Homo sapiens: one gene and its partners. The protein of the gene in region 1 interacts with the protein of each later gene in a biochemical or structural test. Each region holds a gene or a part of one and is shown on either strand. Other genes may lie near its edges.

The links.
Region 2: the proteins of MPDZ (region 1) and TYRO3 interact in a test that uses a peptide from one of them, tested with the Homo sapiens proteins (one large-scale study listed by IntAct).
Region 3: the proteins of MPDZ (region 1) and TMEM215 interact in a test that uses a peptide from one of them, tested with the Homo sapiens proteins (one large-scale study listed by IntAct).
Region 4: the proteins of MPDZ (region 1) and SCN4A interact in a test that uses a peptide from one of them, tested with the Homo sapiens proteins (one large-scale study listed by IntAct).

What each region holds. Positions count from the first base shown.
Region 1 is NC_000009.12:13,111,398-13,116,666, forward strand, and holds part of MPDZ (multiple PDZ domain protein), read right to left. Parts: intron 3,938-5,269; coding exon 3,851-3,937; intron 2,625-3,850; coding exon 2,534-2,624; intron 1,658-2,533; coding exon 1,614-1,657; intron 750-1,613; coding exon 627-749; intron 1-626. UniProt on the Homo sapiens protein: Member of the NMDAR signaling complex that may play a role in control of AMPAR potentiation and synaptic plasticity in excitatory synapses. Promotes clustering of HT2RC at the cell surface.
Region 2 is NC_000015.10:41,564,785-41,569,268, reverse strand, and holds part of TYRO3 (tyrosine-protein kinase receptor TYRO3 isoform 1 precursor), read right to left. Parts: intron 4,244-4,484; coding exon 4,128-4,243; intron 1,910-4,127; coding exon 1,732-1,909; intron 1,053-1,731; coding exon 907-1,052; intron 392-906; coding exon 247-391; intron 1-246. UniProt on the Homo sapiens protein: Receptor tyrosine kinase that transduces signals from the extracellular matrix into the cytoplasm by binding to several ligands including TULP1 or GAS6. Regulates many physiological processes including cell survival, migration and differentiation.
Region 3 is NC_000009.12:32,781,437-32,786,396, reverse strand, and holds the start of TMEM215 (transmembrane protein 215), read right to left. Parts: upstream 2,858-4,960; 5' UTR 2,592-2,857; intron 2,272-2,591; 5' UTR 2,214-2,271; coding exon 1,506-2,213; 3' UTR 1-1,505.
Region 4 is NC_000017.11:63,941,862-63,946,345, forward strand, and holds part of SCN4A (sodium channel protein type 4 subunit alpha), read right to left. Parts: intron 3,778-4,484; coding exon 3,499-3,777; intron 3,200-3,498; coding exon 3,146-3,199; intron 2,950-3,145; coding exon 2,812-2,949; intron 1,990-2,811; coding exon 1,885-1,989; intron 1,236-1,884; coding exon 965-1,235; intron 133-964; coding exon 1-132. UniProt on the Homo sapiens protein: Pore-forming subunit of Nav1.4, a voltage-gated sodium (Nav) channel that directly mediates the depolarizing phase of action potentials in excitable membranes.

The sequences.
Region 1 (5,269 bases):
CTAAAATGTGGTTATGTTCTGAGACCTATTTGAGGTATGAAACCATAGAGATTTTGCTTTAGAGAGACTGAGTTGCGTTAATGGAATATTCATGTAATTTTTAGAGCTGGGCAGTTGGCATAAATTCCATTGCAATGCTCCACAATTTGGATAATCCCTCAGCTTTGAGGCAAGTTGCATATAGTTTTATAACATTGTAAGTCATATTTATATTAAACTTCTGCAAAATTATCAGTGAATGCAAATAAGTAATACTTTTCAATTTAACAGAGTTAAATCGGCGTTTAAACCAATCAAATATATAAGATAAAAATTTCACTTCATACTGGTGTTCTGAAAATACTTTCTGTTCTCTTTTAGCTTGTTCCACAGAATTTCAACATATAAAAATATGTATTAGGAAACAACTATAAATCTTCCTATTTAACTGCAAATCTGCATTTTCTCCTTTCTTTTAATATTCTTTATCTTTTATTCCAAGCAAGCCTTGCTGTGGTTGGATTAGATGATTTAAAAGTAAATATAGATATTTAAAACTGCCTTGCAACAGGTAGCCAGGTTCAAAGGTTTATAAAAACACTTCTGCACATTTTGCTAGGGCTTCTAGGGTTGATAGTACGACTCACTCTGAGTTTTTGGGTCTGTGCTGCAACTCCAGTTGGGTGCATCATTGCAATAAATATAGGCACATCACCAAGTGGGCTGCCTACTCCTCCAGCGATGCTGATTCCCAGTGAGTCAGTAGGGCCCTGCCATGGAACAGATATAAAATTTTGGTCAAAGTGATATTTTTCATTGACCTTTTGTTTATTCTTTGGCATGATATCTATAGTCAACTCTGATTTTCTAAGTGTGAGGGGGAAAATGAAGAAGTGCAAGAAAACTGCATTACTTTACTTGACACAGGTGCTTAGCGTGGCTTAGGAAAATAAGCATCTGTTCAGGAAGTAAAATAAATCAAGACATGCTAAATGAAAATCATGTTGTGGAACTGATGAAAAGCAGGTAAACTCATGAAGTGAAAAGACCACACTTTTGGAATCAGAGTCCTGTGTTCAAAGCCACGAAGTCATACTTGCAAATGCTGGAACTTGGAATAAGTCCACTCCACTCAATAAATCATTAGATCTTCATTTACAAAATGGAGACAACAGTGCCTCTCACAGAGGGCTGCAGTGAATATTAAATGACATGATGATGACATGAAGTGTCTATAAGAGTGCTCAGAACAATAGTAAAAGCTCAATAAATCACAGCTGCTTTTACTTTGTCTCTTGTGCATGGCTGTCAAGGGAATCTGTTTCAGAACTAATAAGTATCTGTTGAAGAGAAAGGTTTACTTATAAGAAGTGAGAGGCATGGTATTATTTTGTGTGGGGTCAATTTTATGCTATTTTCAGCAAAACAGAGCATGCAAACAACGATTTTTCAAATGAGGTGCTGTGATCAGGAAATTCATTAAGGACTACATTATGTTATTTCACATGTAATATGTAAGAATACATACTTTTTGAGATGAATACTTTAAAACCGTAAGAAAGTTAACAAGAAAACACATATGAAGATGTCTCTTAAAACGCCAGGGTTTATATTGTTTTCTCTCCCCAAGTTACCTTTTTCATTTCGACTGTTCTTAATCCCTGTATTTCAGATGCCACTGTAAAGGCAAAAAAGATAAAATAGGGTTATTTTATGTTCATTCACTTTTTATGTTCGTTAAAATATCTAAAGCTGGATGGGACTAAATGATAACCTAGGTTTCTTTTTTTAAGGGGGTGCTCAAAGCTGCTAGTACACATGATTAGATCTGTCTTACACAGAACTATTTATTTTTCCAGTTGGAAAAACGTGTATACCATCCCATTCTTCCTTCTCATTTTAAGTGTTGATTATATAACTATGTAATCCACTTTGAATGAGTCAAGGGCAGAATGTGTTTTGCATAGAAAGGCACATGTGCACGGCTGAGAGGAATAAAGTCATGGATGCATTAAAAAAATTCACAAATTTAAGTGCCTAAATTTCTAGAATATTAGTCATACTGCAAACAGAGATTGCCATATTGTTAGTTTCTTCAATTTGAACAACTCTCAACCAATGCACCAAGCCAAAAATCCCTCTGCAGCATGATTTCACGTAATTAAAACACAGGAGGATCACATTAATTTTCTCAAATTTTTGCAATCTTCATGGAAAAAGAAGGCTTCACTTAATGGCATCTTCTGATTTACTGGTGTTACATTAAACACAGAAAAGGAATAAAATCAAAAACACCAATCTGCTTAGTAAGAAAAAAAAATTACAGAATCCTGATTATAATGTTTAGTGTATCTTGTAGGGTAAACATCAAATGGGAAAAGCTGCCATAGGCAGAACTTCATGTTGTTCAGACTTTTTGCTAACACGTGTTTTTGTACCTATATTTGGATATGGGATGATTTGGGGGAAAAGAAAGCTCAGAGGTAAACAAGACAAAAAAATCAGTGTTGACAGCCAAATTCAAACCATGTTTAAAATACTGAACCAATCTTACATGCATTCTTCTTTGAGCTACTTTCCAGTGACTCAGATGTACTGGATCCAGAGAGTGGAAAAGTGAAAGATGACAGGCTGCCTTCACTCACCTACAAATATACAACAATTATTTCAGAAGGTTTTGCAAGTAACATACTCCCTAAATACCACTTATTTCAGAATTTAATCTAGAGACAGATACCTGTTAAGCAACAGTGGCATTTGATAATTTGATGAGCAATTTAAACACAGTTCCTACTGATTTTTTTTCTTTTAAACAGAGAATGTGTCTAGTGACATAAATAAATTGAAGCTAAAAGGGTAGATGAAATTGATTCCAATCTACCTAAAATTTTAGTGGATAGTCATAATCTCATTCAAACTAATCTTCTTTAAATTTAAACTGATGTTGTAGGAAGACTAGGACTTAAACAAAAACTGTAGAATTAGGGCCAGCTAATAGGAAACTCATGGTAGTAATTTAGAAAGTTAGTATGGGGTCTTTAAGGACAGACTGATGAAAATGGGTTTCCATCATCAGTAGACAACACTGAGGAGAAGGTCAAGAGGTCTTGTCAAGAGTCTTGAAATATTTAACATCATATTTTTATACATGGTGCTGAGTATCTATAGTTCACTTATATGGGACTTTTCAGTTGAATATTGATTGATGTTGCTATAAAATATTTTTAAAATATGTTATCTTGGGGCCAGGTACGGTGGCTCATGCCTGTAATCCCAACACTTTGGGAGGCTGAGGCGGGTGGATCACGAGGTCAGGCGTTTGAGACCAGCCTGGCTGACATGGCGAAACCCCATCTCTAATAAAAATACAAAAATTAGCCAGGCATGGTGGTGCACGCCTGTAGTCCCAGCTACTCGGGAAGTAGAGACAGAAGAATCTACTTCGCCCGGGAGGCGAAGGTTGCAGTGAGCTGAGATTGTGCCACTGCACTCCAGCCTGGGTGACAGAGCGAGACTCTGTCTCAAAATAAATAAATAAATAAATAAAATAAATAAAATAATAAAAAATTTGTTATCTTGGTAGGCTTTACAATTAGGTAGTTACCTTTTGAGATTATGGAAAATGAATCATGTCAAAAAAGAATGCTTGAAATCAATTTCCTTAGAATGACTTACAAACTACTCAACAGCCACACCTTGTTTACCTGGCTATTCTGATTCCTTGTTCTTCTCTGTCTCAAACTCTGCACCTCAGTCACTATCCCACGCTGCCAGGGGACCAGACCTTGTACACAGACCCACAGTCAGGGCCATCTATGTGTCCTCTTGGCATGCCGATTGCATCGCCCTGATGAACTCCACAGCTACCCACCTGGCTGCTTTGAGATGGCCTCCTCTCTGAATGGAATGGACCAGCTTTGATTCTTCCAACTTCCAAGGTTACTGTGCCTAGGGAACACTGGGGGTGGGCATGGGGGGTGTTTTATGGAAATGTTTAAATAAAATGCTATAATCATCTTTAGGAATACATTTTACTCTTCAAGACTTTTTTGAAAGGCATCTTCCTTTTGGAATTTCTATAAGCAAGGATACCTCCAATCCCTTGTGGAAAATGGCTTTTTATAAAACATTCAAACTAATAAAAATAATCAGCAGCAGCAACACCAAGTGTTTACCTTATCACCTCATGATTTCTATGGAGACTACTTGTACCAAAAAGAAATGGAGAATTGAGCAATTATCTCATGAAACACACTAATTTTGATAGGACAAACAAGCTGAATAACTGAGGGTTTAAAAAACAAAGCGACTGTAATCCCACCACTTTGGGAGGCCGAGGCGGGTGGATCACGAGGTCAGGAGATCAAGACCATCCTGGCTAACATGGTGAAACCCTGTCTCTACTAAAAATACAAAAAAATAGCTGGGCGTGGTGGCAGGCGCCTGTAGTCCCAGCTACTCAGGAGGCTGAGGCAGAAGAATGGCGTGAACCTGGGAGGCGGAGCTTGCAGTGAGCCAAGATCATGCCACTGCACTCCACCTGGGTGACAGAGCGAGACTTGAGACTCCACCTCAAAAAAAAAAAAAAAAAAAAAAAGCGAACACAATAAAACCACCACTACCACCACCTCAGCAACTTGTTTTGCCCTCAGTGGAAGAGGTACTTAGATAATTGGGTAAATTCTCTATCACTACACTGTGCCTGAATAGACTTATGATATAAAATTTAGATAAATACTGCTATCAACACAAAACATGAACTGAAGACAATCTTTCTTGCACCCCTTTACAAATAAACCATAGGCATGCAAGAAATGCCGCACAGTCTAATATGAAGTAGCACAAGAAGGTGTTTGAGATCCTGTTTTGGAGTCACTGGATTAAATCCAGACTATGTGATTTATTAGCTGTGTGACTGTAATGGATGTTTAACCTTAATAAATCTTTTACTCTGAATTTTAAAAATGTACATCATTATAGGTTGTTGAGATAAATAAACCATGAACAATGCTTATGACAGTGTCTAGAATGGAGTAAGATTAATATAAATATTGGGCACTGATATTATTATTCAGTGATGAGAGTACAAAGGGATGTGTTATTCTGAAGATGTTGATCATGAATCATACTCTGAAAGGTCAAAACTTGACTTGTAATATCCATAAGTTGGTTTTTTTATTTGTTTGGTTTGGGGTTTCTTACCAAACTCTTCTTGAAACTATTTATATTTTCAGTTTACATAACTGTAAGGTTAACAAGTCCATACGTTATTCACTGTGTAATGTTGCGA
Region 2 (4,484 bases), on another chromosome or scaffold:
TGTTGCCAGAGCTGGTCTCAAACTGCCGGCCTCAAGCGATCCCTCAACCTCCCAAAATGTTGGGATTACAGGCATGAGCCACCATGCCCAGCCAAGATAGTTTAAACAGCCCTGGCCTCAACTTCTTCACTCTGTCTGTGGGTCTACTAGGAGGGGAGATGCTACTAGGCTCCTCCCATCAGTCTAGGTTGCCCTTGAAAACCTTGATCCCCTGAGCCTCTGCCCCTCTCCACCTACAAGCCTCACCTGCACGGTCATGAGAAGAGACCACCAGTGGCTGACTCCAGGGTCCACAGCCAACTGCATTGGAGACGCACACACGTACGATCAGGTCCTTTTGGGGATCCCAGCCTGTCAAATTGGCCCTGGTCCCCTCCACTGTCAGCTCATCCTGCAGCCAGGAAAAGCCCCCACCCCATAGTGAGCCTGGGGAGAAGGCCTCCAGCTGGGGCCTGAGGACAGAAAAAGGTCCAGCTGGGAACATGGGAGTATAGGGGCACTGTGGGTTCAGGGGCTGCAGGAACACAACCTTCTGGGAGTAATCACATTCCTGTTCCCGGCTGCAGGGGCCTCTCCAGAACACAAACAAGGCTCAGTCCCGGAATGCACAGGTGGGGGATGGGAGCGAACTGAGCTGGGGACAAAGCCTTATCTGTGCCCTCCCCCAGCTCAAGCAGGAATGTGCTTCCTGCTTTATTTACAAAGTGCACACAGGATGCAACCCTAACAGGAGACATAATCCTTTGAGAAGTGGAGCTTGCAGAGGAGGGTGAGGAGGAAAGGATTCCCTGGGGCTGCGGGAGACCCAGGCCCACCAAAGACAATCATTTTGAAATTCTTAAAGGCCTTAGAACCCTGAAGGCTTATACTCCAGGAGAGTGGAGAGAGGGGAGGGTTCTGTCTTACCTGGGTTCCATTGTCTTGAACCCAGGACAGTTTGTAGGGTCCCAGGGGGCCTTCCAAAGGGGCCTCGGGGATCACTTCTTCCCACTCCAAGATGAGGCCTGAATCTGTGCGGATGGCATGGAGGTTTTGGGGAGCGCTGGCTGGGGCTGCAGCCAAAGAGAGAAGATTGCTAAGACCCCTGCCCTTCCCACCATCATAATTCCATGCAGACCTTTGGAATCAACTCCCAAGAACTAAACAGCTCTGAGAGGCACAAACTGGGGAAGGGTTCACCTCCCAGCTCTGACTGCTCTCACCCACTGTGCTGGGGGAGGGGTAAGCAATGGGCAGGACAGGCAGCACCCCAGCTCGGCAGTGTTGCTCTTCATCACCATGGTTACTGCCTTTCTGCCTCACCCCTTACCACTCCCCTCTCACAGCTATGCCAGCCTCTTTGCAATTGCCAAGCAAGTTCCTGTCATAGGGTCTTTGCACTTGCTGTGCCTTCTTCCGGCAGTGATTTTCCCCCAGATATTTACATGGCTTCTTCTTTATCGTTCAGATCCCAGATCCTTCAGATCTTTATCCTTCAGACCTTTTTAGGGGGGGTTTCCTTAACCACCTGGGGACACTCTTTATCAACCACATTATCTGATCTTTTCCAGTTTGCTTATCTGTTCCACCTACAAGAACTACTTACAAGGTGGTATGTAGTTATATGCAGTAAATGTTTGCCGAATGATGCCTGAACCTCCATCTCTACCAGCACCATTCAGAACTCCAGCCAACACGGCCCCCTTCCCGGCTCCAGCCCTGCCCACCCGCTCTGCTCTATGCATCCCTTACCTAGACCCTTGGTCTGAAAGGGCACCCAGTCAGCATAGGGAGAGGGCCCCAAGGCATTGGCACAGCGCACCCTGAGGCTGTAGTTGGTGGCAGGCACCAGGTCCCGGAGCAGGCAGGTAAAGGGGGGCACAGGGACCACAACAGCCAGGACTTCCCAGCCTCCTGGGGCCTGTGTCACCTACAGAAAAGCAGAAAACTAATGATGTAGGGGAGAGCCTGTGAGAGATGGAAGATGGGATGGGTATAGTTATGGGTGCTTGAATGAATGCTTCCTCTATCAGCAAACACTTGCAACCCACGCCCTCCCATCTGCCCCCACCCCAATAATACACAGGGTTCCACATCTTCATACCTTTGCAAATGCTGTTCCTTTCACTTGGAATGACCTGCTCTTCCTAGCAAAGGCCTACTCATCCTTTAAGACTCAGTGCAAATATCACTTTCTTGGTGAAAGCCTTTCTCAACCACTCCAGAAAACTCTTGTCCTTTTGTACTTGGTACGAAACTCTTAGGGTATACTTACCACTTACTGTGCCTGTTTACATGCCACTCCAAAGTTCTAGAGCTTCTGAAGCTCAGAGAAAACTGGGAGCCTAGGGCACTATGAACCAGCCCTTCATCTTACATTTTGGGGGCCCAGGGCAAGAGTACAAAGAGATCCACGTACTATATGTCTAAATATTTAAACATTATAAATCAGCTAACAAACTATTAAATAGTTTCTCTCTTAATATTTTGACCAATAAACCTTCAAAACAACCTGGGAGATCAGGTTTGCATTTGTAACTCTCCAAATCCCTGGAGTCCCGAGTCAGAATGAGGAGGCACTGGAAGAGCTGGCCTGAAGCCAAGGTCTGCACCATGAGGGGCCTCATGTGCACAGGCGTGGACAATGCTGACTGCATATCCAAGCTCCATTCCCATCCCCCTCACGAATGGCTGCCCCTTGGGCTTAGAGGTGGTCATATCACACTGCGGTCCATCCTTGGGAAGATGGAACAGGGAAAAGGCCCACACAGACCCCAGAAGCAGACTCAGAACCATTAGGGCAAGAGATCCTGAATAGCTATAGTATAGTGTGGCAGTGAGGGGGTCCTTGCCATCTGGATGGGCATATCCTCTTGGCCCTGTAGGCTCTTTGCCCCGGGGAAAGGGGTGTGGCCAAAGGAGGGCCAGAGTAGGATCCTCTTTTTTTTTTTTTTTTTTTTTTTTTTTTTAATAGAGACAGGATCTTGCCCTGTCACTCACTCAGGCTGGAGTGCAGTGGCATGATCTCGGCTCACCGCAGGCTTGACTTCTCAGGCTCAAGTCATCCTCCCACTCTAGCCTCCTGAATAGTTAGAAGTACAGGCGCATGCCACTGTGCCTGGATAATTTTTGTATTTTTTGTAGAGAAAGGGTTTTGCCATGTTGCCCAGGCTGGTCTTGAACCCCCAGGCTCAAGCAATCCTCCCGTCTCCACCTCCCAAAGTGCTGGGATTACAGGCATAAGCCACTGTGCCCAACCTCAGTAGGGTTCTCTAAATGGTGGAGCCCAGAGCAGGGGCCCCTCCTGCCCAGGGGAACTGCCCAGAACAGTTTTGAAAGGTACTCATTAAATGGCCTTTGAGTAAACGGATGAAAATGAGCAAGCCTGCATTGCCTCTTGTTTTTAGTATCACCTTACACAGTTTTTCCACTCTCCAAGGCTTAGGGCCCCTTCTGGTCATCTTGTTCTCTTTGGCTTGAGTGGGGGTTGGGGGGTAAGGTGGAGCATGATAGGGTGAGTATCAGCAAAGGTTTGAGCTTTCACCTAAGTAAGAAAAACTCGTCTGGGTGTGCTGGTTCATGCCTGTAATACCAGCACTTTGGGAGGCTGAGGCAGGTAGATCACTTGAAGTCAGGAGTTTGAGATCAGGCTGGCTAATATGGTGAACTACTAGTCTCTACTAAAAATACAAAAAAAAAAAAAAAAAGTTAGCTGGGCGTGGTGGTGCATGACTGTAATCCTAATCCTAGCTGCTGGGGAGGCTGAGGCAGGAGAATCACTTGAACCCAGGAGGTGGAGGTTGCAGTGAGCCGAGATGGCACCACTGCACTCCAGCCTGGCCAACAGTGAGACCCTGTCTCAAAAAAAAAAAGAAAGAAAGAAAAACCTTCCAGGTACCCCAAATCTGTTCTAGTGATCTGCTTTCCAACCTTATGAATGCATGAGTTTGAGCCAATCTGCAAAGTCACTTAGTTGCCAGAGCACCCCATGATAAGAGACAGTGGCCTGTGTTCTTCCTGCTAAGGAGCAGAGCCTGAAAAGAGCTGCAGACCAAGCCCCCAGGAGCTGGCTAGTGAGTGTGATATCCCTGTCAACAAAGTGCTGGCCATGCAGCCAGAACGAGCATGGCCCGGCCCGGAGAGCCTACCTGAACTGTACAGGACTGTAGCAGAGCTCGGCCATCAGCACCTGGCATCCAGGCCACACTAGCGTTGCTGCTGGAAAGCTTTGTCACGGTGATGTTGAAGGGGGCTGCAGGCAGTGCTGTGGACGGGGACTCAGAATCAGTGCCCAGTAGGGATATGAGCAGAGGCAGCAGGAGGCATGGGAGTCAAGCCTTGAGTCTCTCTGAGGGTCCAGGGCATCCCCAACCTAAAGACGGCTACTCAGCACTCCCAGGATCACAGTAGTACACAAATAAGCAACCAGTAGGGCACAGCTGCTCACACCTGGGAGAGTGCCTGGGCTGTGGAGAGAGGTTGCCTCTCCCTGCCACGAAGGCCCT
Region 3 (4,960 bases), about 20 Mb from region 1:
ACCATGATTCTTAAGACAGAACAATTGCTATACTTAAGAAAGAATTGCAGAGTTGGAATTGAAATACACAAAACATATATGCCCAAATTTTTGTCCTCAATTCCCCTTTTGGGAGAAAGTGACTAAGACTATATGATCACTTAAAATGATCATTCTTTGAAGGATACAAAATACTTCTGATCTTCAAGATGAACTCTATCACCATTCCTATATATAATTCATATTTTTCTTCACCGGGGATCAAATGGCATTCTGCTTGATAGCCTTCTTATCTATTGCAGTTGAGCAAGTGAAATAGAAAGCACATTTTAGGATATCATTGTGATTTGTTGTTTTCCTCAGCAGCAAAAATGTATGAAATAAAGAGACTTTTATCATGTAATGTTCACTGATCAGGTGAGCTTAATAAAATCTAGGCTTCAGTTAAATTTAGTAGATGAGTTCTTGTTTCACTGGCATTTACAGTCTGTGAGAGGAGTTGAACAAATGTACAAATAATGACACTTCCAAAGGTTTAACCATTGCATTTCATACAAATTATGTGCAATGTTCAAGGCTAATGTGTAGACTTTATAGTTTTCAGATTTTAAAAGGTATGTAGGAATGGTAATTATCAGTACATGTCTGCCAATGTTAAAGACTTGGATATATATGTAAAATTCATTTTGTCTTGATGAAAACAAATTCCAATCTATGAAAGTATCATTTCAAATAATGTTGCACCTGGTAAGGAAATAATACATGAATGATAGTAAATGTTTAGAAAAAACCCATTTCAGATAAAGATGCAATAAATGGATTTAAACGAAGAGTTTAAGAAGTAACATAGCCATCTAAAAATGTTAACTTTTCACATAGCTGCTCACACTTATTTTACTTTATTAGAGACCATGATCTTGTCAGACAATAATGCCACAAGACTCAGTTACATAATCCAACTCTCTTTAACTACCCTTTTCCCAAAAACCATCCCATCTAAGGAGGGTTTAACTCTTGTATCTTGATTTTTTTTTCTTTCAGCAAATACCAAGTGTGATAAGCTTTTAACCAGGCAAAAATTACTTTATATAACGGATCATTAATTTTATTTTCAACTTATTCAAACATAAAGCAGCTCAGTTTCCCTGTGGTCAGCTCATGCATCATTTGATGCCTCACATCTGCAGCCCACTCTAGATTTATCTTGCTCTCAGCTGGTTCTGGATAGCACTTTTTGGGTTATTTTACAAAACATTTAACATTGTGTAAATTGTTAAGAAGCAACTGGAGTAGCTTCCTTTCCTACCCACTGCCTCTTCCAGTGTCCTTAACCCTCATCGCCCTTCCCTAAAATGTGTCCCCAACATGCCTATTTACATGACTCTCGGGTACCAGAGGTTATCACACCCATCACATACCAGGTCAATTTCTAACAGTGTGAAGGCTCTCCAAGCAGAGCAATTTGCTTCCACGGGGAGCTGGGCTTAGTCATATTCTATCAATCCAGCCACCTTTGTAGGCAGAGATTAGACGATGGTCTCGTGGTCCCACCTGCCTTGTATCTGATTGATATAACAACAGTATCTGTCATACGGGCTGTTCTGCTTGTAGGAGCAAACGATGATACTGTCCTGGGGCACAAAGAAGATGCTATCCTCAGGCTCAGGGCACTCAGATCTGTCCCTTGCTGAGCACTTGACGTCCAAGGCACTGTAGGTGAGGGAACTGCCCGAGGGGCAGTAGCCGTCCAGGTATCTGGACGTCTCCTCCTGATGCCCATTCTGGACGAGGCTCTGGCATTCTCCTTCCTCCGTGGGTGTGGGGCTGTTGATGGAGCTGGCCACGGACACCTCACCCTGGCTTTGTGGGGGAGGCTTCCCCCTGAGGCCCGCCTTCTTAGCCAGCTCATCTGAGCTCCCCTTGCCGGATTCTAGGTCTGAAGGGGTCCTCAGCAGCTCTACCACCTCCTTGTCTTTGGGTTTCCGGAAGCAGGGCAATTTGCGGACCCACAGCAGCTCGTTCTCTGGCCACTTGGTGCATCCCTCGGTTTTCCTGGCCAGGGCAATGGCTGCGATGCCTGGTAGGCAGATGGCTGGCCCGATGGCCAGGAGGGGGATGTTTCCCAAAGTCTCCCCTTTCATCCCAGAGACGGTGAACATGAAACCAAAGACGAGGAAGACACTGACCAGGGCCACCACCAGCCCAGTCCTCGGGTTAATGTCATCAGGCCGCATGTTTCACTCCATCCAGGTTGGGGGCTGCTTGCTGACCAGGGAGCAGCGTTCCTCTATTCTGTCAGAGATGAAACCACAGTGCGTTAAAAAAAAATCCAAGTCAAGCTCCCACCCATCAACTCTTGTCTTTCTCTTGCCCTTTGTCTCCGACTTGCTTCTTGACTTTCAGTCTTGATCTCTGTCTCTGTATCTCTCTTGCAATCTCTCTATCTCTCTCTCTGCGTTTCTCTTGCAATCTCTCCCTGTTTCTATTTCTACTCTTTCTCTCCGTCCCCTCTCCCTCCCTCCCTTTCTTGTGCCCTCCCTCTCTTCCTCTCACTATTGCAACCTCCGTCTCTCTCTCATATCAACACGCTCCGGCTGGGGTCAACGAGGTACCTGAGGTTTCCTGCCCTCTCCAGGAAGTAGGGAAAGAAGCCAGGCTGTCTCCTCAGAAGCCCCCACAGCAGCTGCCCCCTCGGCTCGCTCCCTTGGTTCTGGGAGGAAAGCCTGGTTTCCCCCACGGACTCTGCATCGGGGAGGTGGAACCTGGGAGAGCGGCTCTCCCAGCAGTGCCCGTCGGTCCCGGTGCTGTGCAAGCGGAGCCCGGCGCCAGCTCAGCGCGCAGAGCGCGGGGCGCGGGAGGAGGAGGGAGCACTGAGTCTGGGAAAGAGGGGACGCGGCGCGAGCCTGGCCTTGTTACATCACTGTCAGAGCAGGCTCAGAAACGCAGACAGACGCGCGGGGGCGCGAGGGGGTCAGCCCCAGAGGGAGGCCACCCGGCGGCAGGCGCTGCCCGGGGTCTCGTCGGGGCTGCTGGGAGCGGCCGGGGTTTGTGCCGCCGCCGTTCCGGAGGCTGAGCAGGGCGACCTGACCCGCTTCCGTGCCCGGGAAGGGTCTGGGGCGCGAGGCTGCCAGTGGCCGGAGTCGGAAACCAGGGTCGGTTTGCCCACGGGGCAGCCGTTGCAATATCCGAGCTCGGGCTCCCAGTCCGGGATCCGAGGAGTTAGGTGCCAGCTGGAGATGTCCCTCCGGGACCCGCACCCTTCTCCAGTTACAAATCCGGGTGACTGACGGCAGGCCCAGGGGCTCCCCGACCGCCCTTCTCTCAACCCCTCGACTCGGGGCGCGGGGGGGTGTGTGTCCCTCGGGGAGCCGGTGCCCGAGGACTGCTTTGGTCCCGGCTCTGGGCGGTGGCGGCGCGCGAAAGCGCTCTTGCAGCGGAGCGACTGCGCCGCGGGAGCGCACAGAACCAGCGCCCAGGCGGAGTGGGTTAGTGGTGAGGGGTGGGTGCCAGGCTAGTCCGGGCCTTGGGGGAGTCCCCGGAGTCCCCGTGGCTTTCCAGCTCCAGGCTCGGGAGAGGGTGACCTTGGAGCCGGGATTTCACTTCTACAGCGCTGTGGTGCCGGGGGGACAGGGAGAAGGGCTCCCTGGCCCCCAGTTCACGAGGAGAAGGGGCCTTGACCGGTCAGGACCACCACCCTACGACGCCGCTCAGCTCTGGGCGATTCTCTCCTCCCTTGCTGAAGCAGGCATTGAGAGCCTGCGTTCCTCCCGCTCTGGTAGGCAGGGGCAGATGGATTCCTCTGGCCCCGGGGGGCAAGACTGGCTTTGGCTGTGATTCTTCAACAGGGCTGCCCATTTAGGATAGAGGAGGGCGGTGGAGAACAGGTTGATGAGCGGTACATGCTTTCATGTCAAGACACTGATTTACTGGAAAGAATTTTCACATCCAGGCCTTCCCCAGTTAAACTAGCTGTATATTCCTGGGCAAGTGACTTAACCTCTCTGAGAATCAGTCGTCCTATCTGTAAAATGAGATTAATACCAAATATATGAGGAAACATTGTGAGGATTAAATAAACGTAAAGTTCCTAGCACAATGCTTGGTACATAGTCTGTGTACAAAAATTACACACACATGCACACACGTACACATGTATATGTATATATATTTGTCATCATAATTAGTGTCTTCATCATGTATGACAGGAGCCAAACAAATCATAAAGGCTGTGAGACTAAGGACTTTTTATCCACTAGGCAATGAAGAACGCTTGATGTATTTTAAGCAAAGATCAATACAAAAACATTCCAGTTTGACTGAAAGGGGCGGCAGGTGAGAGCATAGGTTGGAGCTGGTAAGTCTGGAAGCCGGGAGTCTTGTTCAGTAAGCTGAGAAGTTCAGTAAGCCGGGCAAGACATGATGTGGCCTTAACAATGTCGGGCTGGTAGAGGAGTTGGAAGGAAGCAGATCTGAGGGTATTTAAGGGTTGAGTGAAGTGTCTTGGAGCACAGTGAAGTGAGATGAAGGGAGGAGCCAAGGTCAACTCCCAACTTTCTCACTTTCAAAGGGGTGGATCAGGAAGCAGATCCTTCTCATTTTCCTCTCCATCATCTATTTTGTATCTTTTGTACTCATGACCATTAGACAGCTGCTGCACCTTTAGGCATAGAATCATTTAGGAGGGAAGAAAGGAGAAAATGCAAAGGGTAAAAGTGAGGTGCCAGTTCTTTGGCCACTTGTATGAGGACAATAATAATTTTCCTGGCAGCCCCCCCAAGTAGATAGGCATCTGCCTGTAATTGACCAGAGATGGATGAGCTTTGGGATACAAAGGTACCTGGGAAATTGTTGTTTATTTATTTACCAGATCCACTGATGGTCTGAAAAAAGGGTTTTGTTTAAAAGGAGCAGCATACTGCTCCTTTTAAATACTGGGGAAGCAGCTCGCTACGTGTGTTACAATTATTGAAAAGTTTTCCCT
Region 4 (4,484 bases), on another chromosome or scaffold:
CGAACAGCAGCGTCCGGATGCCCTTGGCCCCGCGGATCAGCCGCAGGACACGCCCAATCCGCGCCAGGCGGATCACACGGAACAGCGTGGGTGACACGAAGTACTTCTGGATCAGGTCAGAGAGGGCAAGGCCTGCGGGGAGAAGCTAGTGAGGACGCTGCCACTGGGGAGGGGGGCCGGCACAGGGTGTGGGGAGCATGCGGGGCTCAGGGGGCCCGGCCTGGTGTGCTCTGCTCAAGTCTCAGAGCACAGCCCAGATGACTGACAGGTGAGGCTGGGCTCTCCCACGGGTCTTGGGGCCAGGGGCTGCAGCTTTGTCTTGATGGAACTGGAGGTGGGATACCCTGAAGTGGGGGAGTGTAAGGCCCATTCCCAAGGCTGTTTGCAAATGCCACTGGTGTGTGTGTGTGTGTGTGTGTGTGTGTGTGTGTGTGAAAGAGACAGAGAGAGAGAGACAGAGAGAGAGGGAGACAGAACAGCTGCGTGACTCTGGGTCTCCACTTCACTTGTTTGTGCCTCAATTTCCTTACCTGTAAAATGGGAACAACAGTTCCTGATCATGACATTGTTATGAACAACAGGTGAGATAACACCTGTCAAGCGCACAGCACAGTTGATAATAAATGGCAGCTACTTTCTATCATAAGCACACGCATGACTGTGCACTTCTCAGTGCACACAGACATGGAACCATCTTTTACACTTTTCGCTCAGTATGTGGGCACCTGAGTGCACGTCTTCTGGTCAGTTGTGTGTCCTGAGGTGCATCCATGTGTGCGCGGGTGACGATCTGCCTGTGTGCACACCATGTGCCTTTGTGCATTGAGAGTGAATGGCAGGCACGCACAGGCATGTGTCTGGGTGAGCGTGTGAGGGTGCAGGGGCAGGTGTGTCCGTGTGAGGATGGGTCTTCCCGAGTGCCTCAGCTCAGTGCTGCCCTGCCGGTCCAGCCCGCCCCGCTCACCCACAATGGACAGGATGACGACCACGAAGTCAAAGATGTTCCAGCCAACGGTGAAGTAGTACTGGCGCAGGGCGAGCATCTTGAGCACGCACTCCCCTGTGAAGATGATGATGAAGATCATGTTGATGTTGTACAGGATGTCCACCTTGAGCTGGCTCTGGTTGTCTGTCTCCACCATCATGGTGACCATGTTGAGGCAGATGAGGATCATGATGGTGATGTCGAAGGCCTGCTTCGTCACGAGGTCATACACCATGCCCTGGATCTTGTTCTGCAGCATGGGTGGGAGTGGATGTGGAGGAGTTGGGGTGGCCAGGCCCAGACAGGACATGGACAGGCAGGAGGCACAGGATGGCACCACAGCATGACAGAGATGACAGAGATGACAGAGAGAGAGAGAGAGAGAGAGAGAAAGGAGGTGTTGGGGGTTGTGGTGGAGTCAGCCAGGGGAGGAGGGGTGACCCATCAGATCATGACAGGTCTGGGACCAGGTCATTTTATGGGGTTCATGGTCCTCCCTTCAAGATCCCCCAGATGCTCCTCCCCTTTCTTCCAAAGTCATTGCTCCTGGGTAGGGTGTCTGGACATCCTCCTCCTTCCACTTGTGGGAGCCCTTGCCCCAGGGGCCACTGGGGTCCCAGGTGGGAGGTAGGTGGGCACTGAGGAGCTTCGTGGGACCAAGTGAGGGTAAAGCACTCACTAGAGTTTCATGGACAGCCTCTGTGCATATGGTGTCTCTGTGGCACTACAAAGAGGCGTCCCTCCCTGCAGGTAGACCAAGTCCCCTGCCCCTGGGGTGGGCCTAACCTCACCCAGGGACACAGCCTGGTGGGTGGAAGGCAGGAAACCTTTTACCCCCATCAGTCCCCTAGGCAGGAGCCTGGCAGCACACACAGGACAGGGGGCCCAGAGGTCTGTACCTGGGGCCGGGGAATTGGCTTCTGAGGCTTCTTGGAGCCAAGCTTCTTCATGGCGTTATAGTATTTCTTCTGTTCCTCCGTCATAAAGATGTCTTTCCCCCCTAAGTATAGTGGGATAGGGCTTGTCAGGTTGAGGTGCAGTTCCCCTTCCTGCCTCCAGGACCACCCCCACCTCAGTGGGGCACCTCACCTTTAAGGCAGCCCCCGCCCCTGTTGATCAGCCTGGAGGAAGCGGGAGGGTCAGAGATGGAGGGACAAGGGGAGAATGCGGGACCGAGGAGAAGGGAGGGAAGGGGAGTGGGGATCAATGCTGTCTTGCAGCCTGTTTCTGGCTACTTTTCATCAACATCTCGCTGAGCCCTAGAGTAACCCACAAGGCAGGTTGTAGCAGCCTCGTCTTTTTTTTTGTTGTTGAGATGGAGTCTCGCTCTGTCACCAGGCTGGAGTGCAGTGGCGCGATCTTGGCCCACTGCAACCTCCATCTCCTGGGTTTAAGCGATTCTCCTGCCTCAGCCTCCTGAGTAGCTGGGATTACAGATGCCTGCCACCACGCCTGGCTAATTTCTTTTTTTAATTTTTTTTGTATTTTTAGTATAGACAGGGTTTTACCACGTTAGCCAGGGTGGTCTCGAACTCCTGACCTTGTGATCCGCCCGCCTCGGCCTCCCAAAGTGCTGGGATTACAAGCATGAGCCACCGTGCCTGGCCCAGCAGTCTCATTTTACAGATAAGGACACCGAGGTTCATGGAGGCCAAGCCACTTGTTCAAGGTGGCCTGGTGGGACTGGGACCCAAGCTAGCTGCCTGAACCAACAACCTGGTAGGTGCTCAGGCAGCGTTTGTGGGTTTGTGCAATGGAGAGTGGACAAAGGAGGCAGGAGGGAGGCCCAGCACCGGGAGGGCCCGAGGGGCTGGGCTGATACTCATCTTCTTCTTCTGCTGGTTGAAGTTGTCAATGATGACGCCAATGAAGAGGTTGAGGGTGAAGAAGGAGCCAAAGATGATGAAGATGACAAAGTAGAGGTACATGTAGAGGTTCACCTCGTACTGCGGCTGCTCCTCCTTCTGTGGGAGCCACAGGGTGGGACGGCGTGGGTTTGCACGCTGGCTTCTCCCTGCCCCCCACAGCCCTGAGGGCAGGACCCATCCACCCCCAGGGCTGCCAAGTCTCGGGGACAGAACGTGCTGCCAAGTCTCCCTCCTGTCTTGAGTCCTCTTCCCTGGCTCGCTCACCAGCCACATCTCAGCGACCCCGACTCACCTCCCGGGAGTCCACGGCTGCATACATGATGTCCATCCAACCCTTGAAGGTGGCCTGAGAGAGTGTGGTTGGGGAGTGAGCCGGGGGGCTGCTCCCTGCTTTCATCATCCATGAGTTTCCCTCCCCCACCCAACCTGGTCCTCCCCTGCCAGAGGCCGCCTGCCAGAGCCCCACTGGGCTAGCATCAAATAAAGACCAGAGAGGTCTAGACACTGCCTGGGGATCCCACAGCATTGGAAGCAGGGTGGGCGGTCCCCTAACCAGGAGTGACACTGGGGTTGGGTACAACGAGAGGACCGGGGTGGGGGGCACCTCCATCCAGGTTCCCGGCAGGGGTGGTGGGTCACACTCACCACCTGCAGGAGGGAGAGGTAGCCCAGACCCACGTTGTCGTAGTTGACCTTGACATTGAGCCAGCGGACCTGGCCTGTGTGCATGAGGCTCTCGCACTCAGACTTGTTGTTGACCTCGGAGATGTCGAACCTCTCAGAGGTGGTGGTGTTGATGCAGTAGTAGAACTTGCCGGCAAACAGGTTGACACCCATGATGCTGAAGATCAGCCAGAAGATGAGGCAGACAAGCAGCACATTCATGATGGAGGGGATGGCGCCTAGGAGGGCGTTCACCACCACCTGGGGGCCAGGGGGTCCATTGCCAGTGCCTCTCCCAGCCTCTGAGAGAGGGCTCCACATCTCTACGCCACCCAGGGGACCAGGCAGAGCTGGGCATTGTCAATTAGGGAGGGCTTCCTAGAGGAGGGCCGACCTGCTGGGCTGTGTGTGTGCAGGTTGGGGGTGGTAAGGGGGAGGGGGAGGGAGCTGCAGGCCTGGTGGTCAAGAGGGCTCTCTGCTTGACTGGAGCCATCAGCCCAGAGTAGGGGTGCTGGGTTTCTCTGGAAGCAGCCTGGTCACAGGTCACCAGGCAGGAGACAAACACTCTTTGCTCAGCCCCCATAGGAAACTCAGCTCACGTGACCCAGCCCCTGCTCATGGGTTTTCAGCCCCAGAGCCCCAGACACAGGCACAGAAAAGAGGGCACCAGGGTCTTTGAAGCAGCAGGAGCTCTGGGACAGAAGCCCCATCCCCACCAGCCCTAGTCACACAGCCCACCTGACCACTGCAGACTGGGCTGGATCTGACACCCCTCTCTTTTTAAGGAGGAGCCATTTCATGACCTCTAGAGTGGGTGGCACAAGCCTGGTGTGCCCAGGGGAGCTCTGTTCCTGGTTGGGGCACTGACCAGCTGCATGGCCACAGGCAGCTTGTTTCCCCTCAACGGGAGGGCTCCCTGGCTCTGGGGGGTCAGAGGGCCCAGCATTCGGCTGGCCTCTTGCAGGGAC